2 linked regions of the Homo sapiens genome follow. The protein of the gene in region 2 purifies or fractionates together with the protein of the main gene of each other region. This does not show direct contact. Each region holds a gene or a part of one and is shown on either strand. Other genes may lie near its edges.

Region 1 (3,822 bases), on a different chromosome or scaffold from region 2:
GACTTTTGTACAAAGCCAATATTCAAGAAAATCTTTTTAAGAATTTGATAAACTGTTTCTAATACCTCTCTTTTATTCACCAAGGAAAATCAGGATTATATCAAAAACAAAAAAAAAACTGTGTCAACATGTTTAACAACTTTTAAATTGAAGCGTGATTCCATGGTGGGGGTAGGCATCACCTCCATTTCTACACCAATGTCTCAGTGCTTTGCTTTCTTTCTTTTTTTTTTTTGAAGACAGAGTCTTACTCTGTTGCCCAGGCTGGAGTGCAGTGGCGCGATCTTGGCTCACTGCAGCCTCTGCCTCCCGGATTCAAGTGATCCTCGTGCCTCAGCCTTCCAAGTAGCTGGGATTACAGGTGCGTGCTATCATGCCCGGCTAATGCATTTGAGTTTTGACTCTTCATGTCCTGGTATTCAAATTTGCCAGGCAATGCATTTTAAAGTAAGGATTTGAATTAAATACTGAAGACCCTCTGAAGTTACATTAAAAATGTTAGCCTTCAGATCAGACAGTATTCTTAGGTATGTTGCTTCTAACTGTTTGGAATCAAAATATACCCCTCCACCCAAAATCTGACTCCTTTCAGATATCTCAGGATAACCTGACAATTCAGTTTTTGTTTTCCACTAAAAAGCTCAATGCTGCTGTGTGTTCTTTAGGTTCATATGGAGTCTTGAGTCAAATCAAACACTCCCCCAAAACATGCAATAAAAGCAGGTTTTCCTGTTGGACACTTCTATCAAAAGTTATATAATGTCTATACCAGTGTTGTCCAATAGAAGGTTCTGTGATAATGAAAATGTTGTATATCTGCATTATCCAATATGGTAGCTACTAGCTACATGTGCCTAGTAGAAGCGATGAACTGAATTTTATTTCATTTTAATTAACTTACATTTAACCACACATGGCTACAGTCTACCATATCTGACAGCACAGGTCTACACTGAGGTTCAGGTGCTCAGAGACAGTGAACAAAAGCAAGATTATTTGTCACTCTTCTTGTTGACACGCTCTCAGCAAGCTAGTTGGACCATGTGAGGCCAGGAAGGTGGGCAAACAAGGATAGCATCACCAAGCATTTCTTTGTGAACTAATTCCGCCACGGCCAAGACAATGTCCCACCATCCTTTGTGGAATAAGCATCTAAGAAGAAAATTTGCTTTCATTTGCAAAGATGCTGAAGAGAAAATGTTTTATCCACTGGCTGAATGAAAAGACTCTGGCTTGTAAATAACAAGGGTTTCATTTAGCAATTCTTTCAATTCTTCATCACATAAATATTAAGGGCCAACTGTGTGCCAGGCAAATTCTATGTACTGAGAATACAGCAGCAAACAAGGTAGACAAAATACTGGGTGTCATGGAGCTCACATTCTAGTAGACGAGTCAAAATTACTTCAGATAATAATAAATGCTATGAAGGAAACAAAATAGGGTAGTATAAAGGCTCTGTAACTCCAAAGTAATGTTTATACTAAACCAAGAAGATTAAAAAAAAAATCAGGAATTTGCAAGCATGAAACTTCTATCTTTAAAAATATTCACTGGAGGGAATGTATAGGGGTCAAGGTAGAATAAATGTGGTTTTGGGGAAAGAATATTTGTTAAGCTGGGAAGAGCTAAGTCTGCCTGGGGTGATCCTTAGACTCAAATAAGGTATTTCAATGAGCAAGGCAGGAGGTAGAAACAAGAATAGATTAAAATTACACAACAGACTTCTACTTGCAGAGGTTCCAGATAGTTTGAATTAGGTTTGCATTTACATTCACACTTGGGTGGCAGGAGTATGAAATGTGTGAATCAAAGACCTCGAGTCACAGAAATAAATATGTCACCTAATAAATCACTTATTTAGCAGGGGGATAAAATGTAATAAATAATAGGAAATCCCGGAGTTGTATTTAGCAGACTAAATATTGTGATCAATCTGTGCATTTATTTTATATGCTGCTTTAATGACTATGATCTGGTTCTTTGTTTTGTTTTATTTTGTTTTGTTTTGAGATGGAGTCTCGCTCCGTTGCCCAGGCTGGAGTGCAGTGGCGCGATCTTACCATAACCTCTGCCTACCGGGTTCAGGTGATTCTCCTGAATCAGCCTCCTGAGTAGCTGGGATTACAGGTATGCGCCACCATGCCCAGCTAATATTTTTGTAATTCTATGCATTCATTTTAAAGTTATTGCTGGCAAAAACAGTATTTCAAAATGCATCTGGTGTGCACGTGTTTATAAACCATACTTCATTATCACTGCAACTGTAAAACTGTAAACTGTTATATTTCAAAATTCTTCCAGATTTCTAGTCAGAAGAGATATCAATCAATCTCATAAATAAACCAGACGTATATTTCCAATGACCTCAAAAGATGCCCAAACTCCATAGGTACACAGTAAACCTTATCACAACACTATTCATTGAGATAGAGCTGAACTGTCCATTTTGGGGCCCTCTCTAAGGGAGCTACAATTATATTACCATTTTGACTGTTTAAATGCACAAAAGGGTCAGGAATGGGCACTAATTTACAACTAGATTATTGGTAAAAACGGAATTTTACGTTATGAACATTTTTCTCTGTATAACTTGCTATCTGTATAACCTGCTTTCTGTATAACTTGCTATCACTAATTTCAGAACCAGGGAGAGAATAAAGAGTTGTTTCTCCACAACAATAAAGTCAGTCTACACCAGTAGACAGAGATAAGAATACAGGCAGAATGTAACACAAGGTACTTTGATGACAATATTCCTCAGAACTCCTTGTTCTTTGCTTCTCCTTTATTCACTTTTTTGAGGGGAGGAAGGACAGTTCCATTAACTTTTTTTAAAATCACTTAAAAAAGTTGATACATAACAGATGTACTTATTCACTTTTACTTGCTGTTCTTGGAATTTTCCACGGACATTAAATATTATAACTTTTAGTACCAAACTGAAGTTTGCATTTACAATTGTGAAGCTGGTACTCCCCACCAAAATCAGGCCATACTTGTTGGCTTGCACTGAAAATCCACAAGCAGTTCCCATAAATCTTTTGATGATGATATTTTTCAATGGTTTCCCATACCAAGTAGCTGCTGCTTGGGGCGCAGTATGGTTATTAAACAGTCTTATCTGTGATACACTTTAAAACAATACTGGGCTAAACAAAGGGAAGGGAAATCAAAAGACTTAAGTAGCTTCTTGGCTCCATCTTCCTTTACTACTCGCTGCACAAACACGTAGGAGGTGACAAGACAAAGATGAGGCGAGGCAAGCTCCAGGCTCCCTTGAGAGAAAAAAAGCCTATCAGCATTTCTATCAGTAAGCACACCACTTCCTACCTCAAAATCCATAGGATGAAACATATTCTTGATGATGACAACTCGCTCATGGCGCATCCGGGATGGTCCGGCTCGCCTCTCAGGTCTCCAATCCAACTGCCTGAGGCAATGAAGCAGTAACAACAAACTGTAAATTTTGCTTCAGACTTGTTGGAGAGAGAAAAGAATGAGTTGTTCATACAATACTTTACTGAGTATTTAATAAAGATAATTACTGGATTTTACAACAACAAACTGTATTTCAGTCATAGTTCCAGTCAGAAAACTTTCTGAAATAAAAATAATGGGCAGGGGGCCGTGTGCGGTGGCTCATACCTATAATCCCAGCACTTTGGGAGGCCGAGGCGGGCGGATCACTTGAGGCCAGGAGTTCAAGACCAGCCTGGCCAACATGGTGAAACCCCATCTCTACTAAAAATACAAAAATCAGCCAGGCGTGGTGGTGCACGTCTGTAATCCCAGCTACTGGGGAGGCTGAGGCATGAGTAT
Region 2 (3,822 bases):
ATTAGCTGGACATGGTGACGCATGCCTGTAATCCCAGCTACGCTGTAATCCCAGCTGCTTGGGAGGCAGGAGAATCACTTGAACCTGGGAGGCGGAGGTTGCAGTGAGCCAAGATCGCGCCACTGCCCTCCAGCCTGGGCAACAAGAGTGAAACTCCATCTCAAAAAAAGAGAAGAAAAGAAAACAGCCTGGCCAACATGGTGAAACCTTGAAAGAAAACAGCCTGGCCAACATGGTGAAACCCTGTCTCTAAAAAAAAAGTTTATAAATCAGCTGGGCACAGTGGTGCACGCTTGTGGTCTGAGCTCCTCAGAAAAGGGGAGGATCACTCTAGCCCGGGAGGTTGAGGCTGCAGTGAGCCATGCACTGCAGTCCAGCCTGGGTGACAGAACAAGACCCTGTCTTTACAAGAAATTTTTTTGAGAAAAGGATTTCTTTGAGAAAGCCACTATCGAGCTTACAGAGAAAGTTGTGCTGGAGGCCTGGCCTTTCATCTTTGATGTCTAGTTGACCCCCACTATTTTCCATGACAGCAGCTGAAGGTCAACTCTTAGGAGCTCAAGTAGCTGCTGTTACCTGGGAAGGTAATTGATGCGTTGAATTCCCAGCGTTGCTTCACCCGGTTGTCTTTCTCCTCACAGCCTTGAGGGCGTCGTTAACAAGGTGTGTGTCCTTGGTTCTGTCAGCTTCAACAAGAGAAGAATTATTAATTCATATTTTCAATTATTTTTCCACAGAAAAGATTCAAGTTCAGCTGTGCTTCAAGACGTGTTCTCCTGAAAGCCAGCAGATTTATGGGTAATTGTATTTGTTATCTAATGGTGCATGACCAATTACAACAAAACGTAGTGGGCTTAAAACAACAAATATTTGCTGTCTCAGCTTTTGTGGGTCAACATTATGGGAGTGGTTGGGCTGGGTGGTTCTGACTCCTGAGGTTGAAGAGAATTTGTCAGCCAGGGTGGCAGTCATCTGAAGGCCCAAGTGAGGCTGGAGGCCCTGCTCCTCACCATAGGGACCCCTCCTTGGGCCCACTTGAGCATCCTTCACATGACAGCCATGGGACAGAGAGAGAACAAGAGGGAAGCTGCCAGCAGCAGAATTCAGGTTCTTCTCAACCACAGCCAGGCCATAAAGCAAGAGTCCATTATTTTATTTTTTGAGATGGAGTCTGTGTGTGGCCCAGGCTGGAGTACAGCGGCATGATCTCAGCTCACTGCAAACTCTACCTTCCGGGTTCAAGCAATTCTCCTGTCTCAGCCCCCTGAGTAGCTGGGATTACAGGCATGTACCACCACACCGAGCTGATTTTTGTATTTGCAGTAGAGATAGGGTTTTATCATGGTGGCCAGGCTGAGTCTCAAACTTCTGACCTCAAATGATCCTCCTGTCTCGGGTCTCCCGAGTGCTGGGATTACAGGCAAGAGCCACTGTGCCCAGCCTTGTTATTGGTTTGTAATTACATCCCACTATGGTCAAAGAACATACTTTGTATCATTTCAGTCCTTTCACGGCTGGATACAGTGGCTCATACCTGTAATTCCAGCACTTTGGGAGGCCAAGGCAGGCAGATCATTTGTAATTCCAGCACTTTGGGAGGCCAAGGCAGGCAGATCATTTGAGGTCAGGAGTTCGAGACCAGCCTGGCCAACATGGTGAAACCCCATCTCTACTAAAAATACAAAAATTAGTCAGGCATGGTGGTACATGCATGTAATCCAAGCTATTCGGGAGGCAGAGGTTGCAGTGAGCCAAGATTGTGCCACTGCACTCCAGCCTAGGTGACAAACAAAAACCAAATCAAAAACAGAGAAATTTGGGAAACTCAGAAATACGTAGAAATTAAAGAACACACTTATAAGAAACCAGTGAGTCAGACTGGGCATGGTGGCTCACGCCTGTAATCTCAACACTCTGGGAGGCAGAGGCAGGAGGATCACTTGAGCCCAGGAGTTTGAAACCAGTTGGGGCAACAGAGCATGACCCTGTGTGTAATTTAAAACAAACAAAACAATGAGCCAAAGAAGATAATTATAAAATACTTTGAAATAAAACTTATGGGATGCACTGAAAGCCGTGCTTAGAGGGAAATCTATAGCTAAAAACACTTCTATTAAAAAGGAAGAAGCCTGGGCAACATGGTGAGACCTCGTCTCTGCCAAAAACTCAGCCAGTCATGGTAGCATGTGCTGGTAGTATCGCTTGAACCTGGGAGATTGAGGCTGCAGTGAAGCATGATTGTACCACTGCACTCCAGCCTGGGAGACAGAGCAAGATCCCATCTCTAAATGAATAAACAGGGCCAAGCATGGTGGCTCACACCTGTAATCCTAGCATTTTGGGTGGCTAGGGTGGGAGGATCGCTTGAGCCCAGGAGTTCCATACTAGCATGGGCAAGACCTCATCTCCACAAAAAATAGAAAAACTAAAAAAAAAAGAACTAAAAGTCTGGGCGTGGTGGCTCACACCTGTAATCCCAGCACACTGGGAGACCGAGGGAGGTAGATCACGAGACCACGGGTTCAAGACCAGCCTGACCAACATGGTGAAACCCCATCTCTACTAAAGATAGAAAAATTAGCCAGGCGTGGTGGTGGGAGCCTGTAGCAGGAGAATTGCTTGAACCCAGGAGGTGGAGGTTGCAGTGAGTCGAGATTGCGCCACTGCACTCCAGCCTGGGCGACAGAGCAAGACTCATCTCAAAAAAAAAAAAAAAAAAAAAAAAAAAACTGAAGCAGAAGGAAGGAAATAAATAATAAATGAAACCAAAAGTTGGTTCTGTATAAGGATCAATAAAATTGACAAATATTTAGCTCTATCTACAGATCAAAAAAATTGAAAAGCAAGAATACTGAAAATACTAAAATCAGGAATAAAGATGAGACCTTACTATGGACCTCATTCTGGCAGAGTCTCATTCTGACACCCAGGCTGGAGTGCAGTGGTGCCATCTCAGCTCACTTGAACCTCACCCTCCTGAGTAGCTGGGACTACATGCACGCACCACCACGCCTGGCTAATTTTTCTATTTTTAGTAGAAACGGGGTTTTCCCATGTTGTCCAGGCTGGTCTCCAACTCCTGGGCTCAATCAGTCCACCTGCCTTGGCCTCCCAAAGTGCTGGCATTACAAGCATGAGCCGCAATGCTTGGCCCCAGCTCATTCTCTAAGACCAGTATCACCCTGATATCAAAACCAAGCAAAGGAATCACAAAGAGAAAACTACAGACCAGTATTTCTTAGGAACGTAGAATACCAGCAAACAGAATCCAGCAACATAAAAAAGGATTATATACCATGACCAAGTAAGATTTATCCCAGGAATGCATCAACATGCAAAACCAATTAATGTAACACAGCAGGCCTGAGACTGCTGCCCTAAGAACAGCCTGTGTGCAAGGTTCACCCTTGGCTGGCATCTGGGAACTTTTTTTTTTTTTTTTTTTTTTTTGAGACGGAGTCTCACTCTGTCGCCCAGGCTGGAGTGCAGTGGTGTGATCTTGGCTCACTGCAAGATCACTGTGAGTGATCCCAGGTAGCTGGGATTAGAAGTGCGCACCACCACGCTCAGCTAATTTTTGTATTTTTAGTGGAGACGGGGTTTCGCTATGTTGGCTAGGCTGGTCACGAACTCCCGACCTCAAGTGATCCACCCGCCTCGGACTCCTAAAGTGCTGGGATTACAGGCATGAGCCACCACGCCCAGCTGGCATCTGGGAACTTGACTGGTAAAGAGCTCCTATGTGGATACAATACTATCCCCAAATAACAACTGCTCACTCTTTTCTATACAAATCATGTGATATTTGCTGAACACTTGCTT

Evidence for each region.
Region 1: the proteins of FLYWCH1 (region 2) and HTATSF1 purify together in Homo sapiens (affinity purification with mass spectrometry; one large-scale study listed by BioGRID and IntAct). This does not show direct contact.

The regions. Positions count from the first base shown.
Region 1 is NC_000023.11:136,503,975-136,507,796, reverse strand, and holds part of HTATSF1 (17S U2 SnRNP complex component HTATSF1), read right to left. Parts: intron 3,434-3,822; coding exon 3,334-3,433; intron 1-3,333. UniProt on the Homo sapiens protein: Component of the 17S U2 SnRNP complex of the spliceosome, a large ribonucleoprotein complex that removes introns from transcribed pre-mRNAs.
Region 2 is NC_000016.10:2,939,295-2,943,116, forward strand, and holds part of FLYWCH1 (FLYWCH-type zinc finger-containing protein 1), read left to right. Parts: exon of another isoform or gene 1-686; intron 687-737; coding exon 738-798; coding exon of another isoform or gene 799-802; exon of another isoform or gene 803-867; intron 868-3,822. UniProt on the Homo sapiens protein: Transcription cofactor. Negatively regulates transcription activation by catenin beta-1 CTNNB1, perhaps acting by competing with TCF4 for CTNNB1 binding. May play a role in DNA-damage response signaling.